Linked DNA regions of Homo sapiens. The protein of the gene in region 2 interacts with the protein of the main gene of each other region in a pairwise test. Each region holds a gene or a part of one and is shown on either strand. Other genes may lie near its edges. The genes, in order: NOVA1 and RPP14.

What was found.
Region 1: the proteins of RPP14 (region 2) and NOVA1 interact in a two-hybrid assay, tested with the Homo sapiens proteins (one large-scale study listed by BioGRID and IntAct).

What each region holds. Positions count from the first base shown.
Region 1 is NC_000014.9:26,594,958-26,599,400, reverse strand, and holds the start of NOVA1 (RNA-binding protein Nova-1), read left to right. Parts: upstream 1-1,367; 5' UTR 1,368-1,964; coding exon 1,965-2,100; intron 2,101-2,318; exon of another isoform or gene 2,319-2,803; coding exon of another isoform or gene 2,804-2,828; intron 2,829-3,303; exon of another isoform or gene 3,304-3,503; intron 3,504-3,847; coding exon 3,848-3,991; intron 3,992-4,443. UniProt on the Homo sapiens protein: Functions to regulate alternative splicing in neurons by binding pre-mRNA in a sequence-specific manner to activate exon inclusion or exclusion. It binds specifically to the sequences 5'-YCAY-3' and regulates splicing in only a subset of regulated exons.
Region 2 is NC_000003.12:58,309,245-58,313,057, forward strand, and holds part of RPP14 (ribonuclease P protein subunit p14), read left to right. Parts: intron 1-1,064; 5' UTR 1,065-1,085; coding exon 1,086-1,162; intron 1,163-1,262; coding exon 1,263-1,347; intron 1,348-3,813. UniProt on the Homo sapiens protein: Component of ribonuclease P, a ribonucleoprotein complex that generates mature tRNA molecules by cleaving their 5'-ends.

The DNA.
Region 1 (4,443 bases), on a different chromosome or scaffold from region 2:
TTTGCCCAAGATACACTTGTAAAACAGCCTACAAGGACCAGAAACCAAGGAAGATTTCAGACTCCGAATCCCATGCTTTTCTACTACCCTGCTTCCTAGAACACTGAGTTAATTAAACTACTAATTTGATGAACGACCTTGAGCAAAATACTTCACTGAGTCAGTTTACTCATCTGTAAAATGAGGGACTTGATTTAGATAATGCCTAACGTCCTTTCAGAGTCTATTCCAGCTACATTAGATGTTTTATCCGGTGTTGCAGGGTTGACGTTCAGGTCCGTGATATGTCCAAGATCTGTATAATCATAAGCCGTGCACATGGCAATGAATTTTATTCCGACACTCGTATTTCGTTCAATATTTAGTTCTGTGTGCACACTCAGCTGTTGCCTGTCTTTAGTCTGCCTACCAGCGCCTTGTGAAGGGAAGACCCACACCTAGCTTTATTTATTTATATCCTGGCTTGTTCCCGAAAGGATTTAAGGCGGCGAGTGACACTCTAAGTCCCCTAACGGTGTCACACAGTGCGATTAAGAAATCCTCTTTGGATGAAATCATACCGTAGAAAATCGCCGATGAGTGAGATGCTAACTAATTAATGTCTTTTACCCAACTCTTAAAAATAAAAACTAATGCACCTAGCAAGAAGTCCTGGAAGCATACAGTGCTGGCTCTCCCTCCAGCTCTGACGCTGTCCCACCCGTTGTCAACGGTCACTCGAATGCCCTTCTTAGACTAGCCAAAATTGTCGCCGCTCCAGTACCAGCTGGACCAAGATCCCACCCCACCCCTTCGCTGCCCCTCATCACCCAAGTTTCCTGATTGGGAAGGGGCCCGAAGAACCTTTCTCACATTTCTATTTTATTGGCTGGCACGGCTGTCAGTAATCTCTCCTTCCCGCCTTCTAGCCTAGCGCGTTTCGTGGACCCCTTGGTTTCTGCGACAAGCCGCTTACGTTTGCCTGAGCCGTGTTGCCGGGGACCAGCGACCTTTCACCCCTCCCTTCCCACAGGAGCGCCCCGGCCCCCGCCCCCGCCCCAACCGCCGGCGCGCGTCCTCACCGCGCACGCGCTCCCCTCGCGCGCGCACACGCTCGCGCACACACGCTCCCTCGCCCCCGCCCGCGGAGTTCCCCCTCACCCCTCAGCCGCCCCGCCGGCTGAAGCATCGGCGCTGGGAGGCGGCGGCGCTGCTGAGAGGCAGGGACCCGAGCGCGAAGTGTGTGGGAGTCTACGAACTCAACCCCTCTCTACCCTCCCCTCACAGCCACCCCCCTCCCTCCCCGCCAGCCCCCCCCAACAAGCGGGAGAAATAATGAGCGAGACCGGGCGGCAGCAGCAGCAGCGCCGAGCAGCCCAGGCAACGGCAGAACCGCTCCGGCAGCGGCGGCGGCGGCAGCACCAGCAGCGGGAGCGAGCGCAACGCTAGCGCGGCGCGGGGACCGCCGCGCTCCTTCCCGGCTCCTGCCCTCCTCTGCCGCTCGCTCCTCTCTCGGCATCCACCTCCTTCCCCTCCTCCTGCTCATTCACTCTTTCCCTCACTCTCCCCTCCTCCTCGGCTTCTCCCCGCGCCCCGCCAGCCCTCGCGCTCTCCCACTCCCTCTGCCTGTCCTCCCCGGTCCCCTCCTCCCGCTCATTCACTCGCCCCTCTCCCTTCTCCACTCTCTCCCCCTGTCTCCTTTCTTCTTCTTCTTTCACCCTCCGTCTCTCACACCCCCTCCATTCCCCTGTCTCCTTTCTGACACTGCACTGCAGCTGCTCCTCAGCCCTGCCCCCTCCCCAGTGAGAACAAACCAGCAACATTGCTTTTTTTCCTAAAGAGATTTATATTGATCCGATTAAAAAAAAAAAACCTTAAGAAACCCCAAACGCAAAAAAAAAAAAAAAAAAAAAAGAAAAAAGAAAAGAAAAAGCCAAAACAAAAGGGAGAACCTTCTCCCGGTAGCAGCGGCAGGAACTGCAAACATGATGGCGGCAGCTCCCATCCAGCAGAACGGGACCCACACTGGGGTTCCCATAGACCTGGACCCGCCGGACTCGCGGAAAAGGCCGCTGGAAGCCCCCCCTGAAGCCGGCAGCACCAAGAGGACCAATACGGGCGGTGGGTATCGCTTCCACCTCCCCGCTGGCCCCATCCCCCGCCGCCCGCCCCTGCCTCCCTCCCTCGCCGTCCTCCCTCCCTCCTTCCCTCCCTCCCTCCCGCGGCCCGGACACCTCCAGCCCGAACCCGGCGGCCCCTGCGCCCCTGCCCCGCGCCCCCTCCCCTGCACCTGCCCCGCGCCTAGGTGTCCCCGACACATTTCCATTTCTGTGTTTATCATTCATCAAAATGGCGACCAGTTTTTCGGAATAGACCTATCTTTCCATTTAATCGGTCCAGAGGTTGACCATGTAAATATCCTAGACCTGGGCAAGAAGGTCCATTCAGGAGGAGGAGGAGGATGACCCCGGAGTGAGGTGATGGCCGCCCGAAGATGCGCGCTGCGTTTAACAGTCTGATAAAATAAATAAATAAATGGCACTTGGGTAGCGGATTGCGAATGACTGGGGCGCCGGAGAGTTTTTCCTCTCTCCATCCTCTTGCTTTGGGCCACAAGTAGTATGCAAAATCTTGATGAGTGCATGCCCTTACCGCACTTAGATTGTCGGTGCAAATATTTCATTGATTTGTCTTCAGGGGGGTGCATACGAGGGTGGGGGTGTCTGGAACGGTGACTTGTTAGTTAACATCCTGCGCTTCCTTGGAAGATGAGTTTTAACGGGACCGATATCGCTTCTTCATTTGCACTGGAATCATCTTAACAATGCACCCAATGCATCGAAGCAGAGGTGAATTTATCTCCAGCATATGCATTGTAGACGGATGGGGGTCTTTTGAGTGGCACACCACAACATTTGGAACATTCATTCACATTAAGAAAGCTGGATTTACCGGGGTGTCTCCTGTATAAGATGTGATCAAGTTGACGGAAATTAAAGTTTGTGGAGTTGGCTTAATTTTCTAAAACGTTTCATTTTATTTTTCCTGGTTCTTCCACCCCCTTTCCGTTTTAAAAGTTGTGATTATTTTGGGAAAGGAACATTACCTGTTTTGTCACTTTTAAGCCTATTTAATATAAATGACTCCTAAGCTTTTTAGTATTGGCAGAATTCTTCTTAAGGTCCTTTAATTAATGAGCTTAAACGAGATCACGGTAGACTAAGAAGTGCTAAAGAAATGCACTAGGATTAGTTAGATTTGCCAGTCCACCACACTGAGTTATTTCCTGGCAGTTATTGAAGACTTGGAATACACCCCACAGTTTGGGTGGATTATTTGGTAGGAGAATGGTTGTTTTGCGGACTTTAAGTAGGATATAGGCAATGGCTAATTGTAGTCCTTATGTGTCTGCTAATGACAAATAAATATAGCTCATCACTATTTACAGTCCTGGGCTTTTCTTCTTTTTTAATATGTTAAGTGAAGGTTTGTCATCTTATAAACCTCTGAAGTTTTGTTAAAGGGTCAGTTCATTTCATTTTGCCACAGATAGAATTGGAAGATTTCCATGTTTGGAATAACAACTGGAATTTAGTCATCAGTTTTTACAGTGCTGCAAAATAATAGAATATGTTTATATTTTAATTCCAAGCTTGAAAGTATAAATCCTATAAAATGGGAAACATTTTGTACCTGTTTGTTTTTCAATGTAATTGGCTTATTTTCATTCTCAAAAAATGTTTAACTTCATATTTCCTGCAGTTATATACCCAGTGCTTTAGTTGCTGTTTTTCTCTCTTGAGGGTGGAGAGGGGATACAAAGTTTGAAATACTGTGTTAACCGAGTATATTTCTTTGCATTTTTCAGAAGACGGCCAGTATTTTCTAAAGGTTCTCATACCTAGTTATGCTGCTGGATCTATAATTGGGAAGGGAGGACAGACAATTGTTCAGTTGCAAAAAGAAACTGGAGCCACCATCAAGCTGTCTAAGTCCAAAGATTTTTACCCAGGTAGGTGCAATGGTGAAGAGATTGTTTGATGAGCTCCCCACAGGAAAGAAAGATCTACTTGTGTTGTGTGCTGTCTTGAAAGAATTTTTAAACAATACTGGAGACTTTATTTAGATATTGCTTTATAGGAATATATTGTGGAAAAATTTTCAGATTATTTCTATTGTTGATTATGCCTTTTTCCTATAATTGTTGTACCGTGTATGTGAATTAGACCAGTTGCAAGATGATTCGGGTATTTCTGAATAATTCTTATTAGCAAAAAAACTCAAAAATTTAAAGATAGAAACCTGGACAGCTGGCATCAGGAAATAGGGTTCTTCTGAAGTTTTCAGACATCATTGTAATGACAATTAGCTTAGAGTGAATTCAGAAGAGGGGGGTAGGGAGGCTTCTTAAAGAATGGACCATTTACTTCTGAATCCATTATGTACCTCTTTCTGCTTCATTGC
Region 2 (3,813 bases):
GGATAAAGAGGCATCGTAACTGGTCTTGAGTGGGCTCAGAGTGGTTGGAATCTCTGGGCACCCTTGGGCAGATGTTACCTACGTTTACTAAACCTCTGTGTCATCTTCTCGAAAATGGGAATAATAATACCTCTTACCTCAGGAGCATTTTGAAGACAAGCTAAGGCATGTGAAATGTTTAGCAAAGAGCTGGGTGCTCATAAGGAAAATTGTTAGCCAAAATTATGTTGTTATGTTTTAAGTAAGAGTACAGTGATTTGACATTTATAGAATATAGAAACTTATTTTGTATTCGTATGGGTAACCTTAGTTTGATCAGAATTAGATGAGTTACTGTGCTCAGAAGTCTTAAAAACCAAACAGGAGGCCAGGCACAGTGGCTCACACCTGTAATACCGGCACTCTGGGAGGCCGAGGCAGGCGTATCACGAGGTCAGGAGTTCGAGACCAGCCTGACCAATATGGTGAAACCCTGTCTCTACTAAAAATACAAAAAAGGTAGCCGGGCGTGGTAGCACATTCCTATAATCCCAGCTACTCGGGAGGCTGAGGCAGGAGAATTGCTTGAATCCGCGAGGCAGAGGTTGCAGTGAGCCAAGATTGTGCCACTGCACTCCAGCCTGGGCGACAGAGCAAGACTCCTTCTCCAAAAAAAAAATAATAATAACAGGAAGGCCGGGCCTGGTGGCTCACACTTGTAATCCCAGCACTTTGGGAGGCTGAGTTGGGCAAATTGCTTGAGCCCAGGAGTTTGAAACCAGCCTGGGCAACATGGTGAAACCCTGTCTCTACAAAAAATACAAAAATCTGCTGGATGTGGTGGCACGTGCCTATACTCCCAGCTACTCAGGAGTCTGAGGCAGGAGGATCACCTGAGCCTCGAGAGCCAGAGGTGGAGGCTGCAGTGAACTCTGATTGTACCACTGCACTTCAGCCTAGGTGACAGGGTGAGACCCTGCCTTAAAACAAACAAACAAAAAAAACCCAAATAGGCCAAATTCTCATCAAAACTCTGAAAAATAGCATGTGCATTGGTCATTTCTAGCCCTCTTGACTTACTGTAGGTGTGATCAGCACTGGAAAAGATGCCTGCCCCTGCTGCCACATATGAAAGAGTAGTTTACAAAAACCCTTCCGAGTACCACTACATGAAAGTCTGCCTGTAAGTTTAGTTTCCTAAGTTCTATTTTAGATTACTTTTCTAACATGAATCTGAATAGAATGAAATTTAATATGACTTTTTTTTTTTTCACTTTTTTTAGAGAATTTCAAGATTGTGGAGTTGGACTGAATGCTGCACAGTTCAAACAGCTGCTTATTTCGGCTGTGAAGGACCTGTTTGGGGAGGTATGGAATCACTTGGTAGATTGAACATTCCAAAGATCTTTGTAAGAAATACAGAAAGAGGCCGGGCGCGGTAGCTCACGCCTGTAATCCCAGCACTTTGGAGGCCGAGGTGGGCAGATCATGAGGTCAAGAGATCGAGACCATCCTGGCCAACATGGTGAAACCCCATCTGTACTAAAACTGCAAAGATAAGCTGGGTGTGGTGGCAGGCACCTGTAATCCCAGCTACTCGGGAGGCTGAGGCAGGATAATTGCTTGAACCCGGGAGGCAGAGGTTGCAGTGAGCCGAGATAACGCCACTGCACTCCAGCCTGGCAACAGAGCGAGACTCTGTCACAAAAAAAAAAATCGAGAAAGAATGCTTTTCAAACATCAAAAAAAAAAAAAAAATAAATTATACAACTCTGTATTTTTAAATTTTTATTCATTTATTGTAATAAACACATTTGTATTCCTTTTTTTCCTCCTTCATCCTCTCTACCCTCCTACCCTTCCCAGCCTCTGATAATCACCAATCTACTTTCTATCCTCATGAAATCTACTTTTTGTTGTTGTTGTTGTTGTTGTTGTTGTTTTTCTTTGAGATGGAGTCTTGCTTTGTTGCCCAGGCTGGAGTGCAATGGCACATTCTTGGCTCACTGCAGCCTCTGCCTCCCAGATTCAAGGGATCTTCCTGCCTTAGCCCCCCTGGTAGCTGAGATTACAGGCACACGCTACCATGCCCAACTAATTTTTGTATTTTTACTAGAGACAGGGTTTCGTCATGTTGGCCAGGCTGGTCTTGAACTCCTGACCTCAGGTGATCCACGCGCCTTGGGCTCCCAAAGTGCTGGATTACAGGCACGAGCCACTGTGCCTGGCAAGATCTGCTTTTTTAGCTCTCACATATGAGTGAGAACATGCAACAGTTGTCTTTCTGTGCCTGGCTGGCTTCACTTAACAAAATGGCCTCCAGTTCTATTCATGATGCTGCAAATGACAGAATTTCATTCTTTTTTATGGCTGAATAATATTCCATTGTAATATATACCACTTTTTTTTTTTTATCCATTGATGGGCACTTAAGTTCTACATTTTGCCTATTGGGAATACAATAAATATGAGAGTGCATATGTCCTTTTTTTTTTTTTTCCCCACCTTGGCTTCCCAAAGTGCTGGGATGACAGCATGAGCCACTATGCCCAGCTGCACATGTCTTTTTGAATTGATTTCCTTTCTCTTGGATTTATGCTCAGTAGTAGACTTGCTGGATTAAATGGTATTCTATTTTTAGTTTAGTTTCTTTTGTTTTTTGTTTTTGAGATGAAGTCTTGCCGTGATGCCCAGGGTGGAGTGCAGTGGCATGGTCATGGCTCACTACAGCCTCAACCTCCCAAGCTCAAGTGATTCTCCCACCTCAGTATCCCGAGTAGCTGGGACCACAGGCGTGTGCCACCACGCCAATTTTTTTACTTGTAGAGGCAAGGTCTCACTATGTTGCCCAGGCTCCTGGACTCAAGCAATCCTCCTGCCTTGGCCTCCCAAAGCACTGGGATTACAGACATGAGCCACTGCACCTGACCTATTTTTAGTTTTTTGGGAAACCTCCATACTGCTCTCCACAGTGGTTGTACATTTACATTCCTCCCAGTAGTGTGTGAGGGTTCCCCTAGAGATTATTTTATTTTATTTTTATTTATTTATTTTTTGAGACAGAGTCTCGCTCTGTCACCCAGGCTGGAGTGCAGTGGCACAACCTCCGCACCCCCCCCCGCCCCTCCCGGATTCAAGTGATTCTCCTGCCTCAGCCTCCCGAGTAGCTGAGACTACAGGTACCTGCCACCACGCCCAGCTAATTTTTGTATTCCCCTAGAGATTATTTTAAAACTGTGTTTGAAATTGCAGAAGTAAACTTTCAGAAGTGATGAATTTTGTTGGGTTTATTCTAATATGCCTTCTGTTTGACAAGGAACACGTTAGACAAATGATTGTTGTAGCACAGTGCTACTCAAAGTGTGGCCTAGACTGGCACCTGCAAACTCTTTTCCCATCTTGAAGAGATAAGGAATTTGCAGCAGAACCACTTTTAATGAGAAAGTCTCCTTATGGGCCAGGCGCAGTGGCTCACTCCTATAATCCCAGCTCTTCGGGAGGCTGAGATGAGCAGATCACTTACAGTCAGGAGTTTGAGACTAGCCTGGCCAACGTGGTGAAACGCTTTCTCTACTGAAAATACAAAAATTAGCTGGGCATGGTGGCGCACGCTTGTAGTCCCAGCTACTTGGAAGACTGAGGCAGGAGAATTGCTTGAACCTGGGAGGCAGAGGTTGCAGTGAGCAGAGATCACGCCACTGCATTCCAGCCTGGGCAACAGAGCAAGACTCTGTCTCAAAAAAAAAAAAAAAAAAAAGGGCTGGGCACGGTAGCTCACGCCTGTAATCCTAGCACTTTGGGAGGCCAAGGCAGGCAGATCCCAAGGTCAGCCGA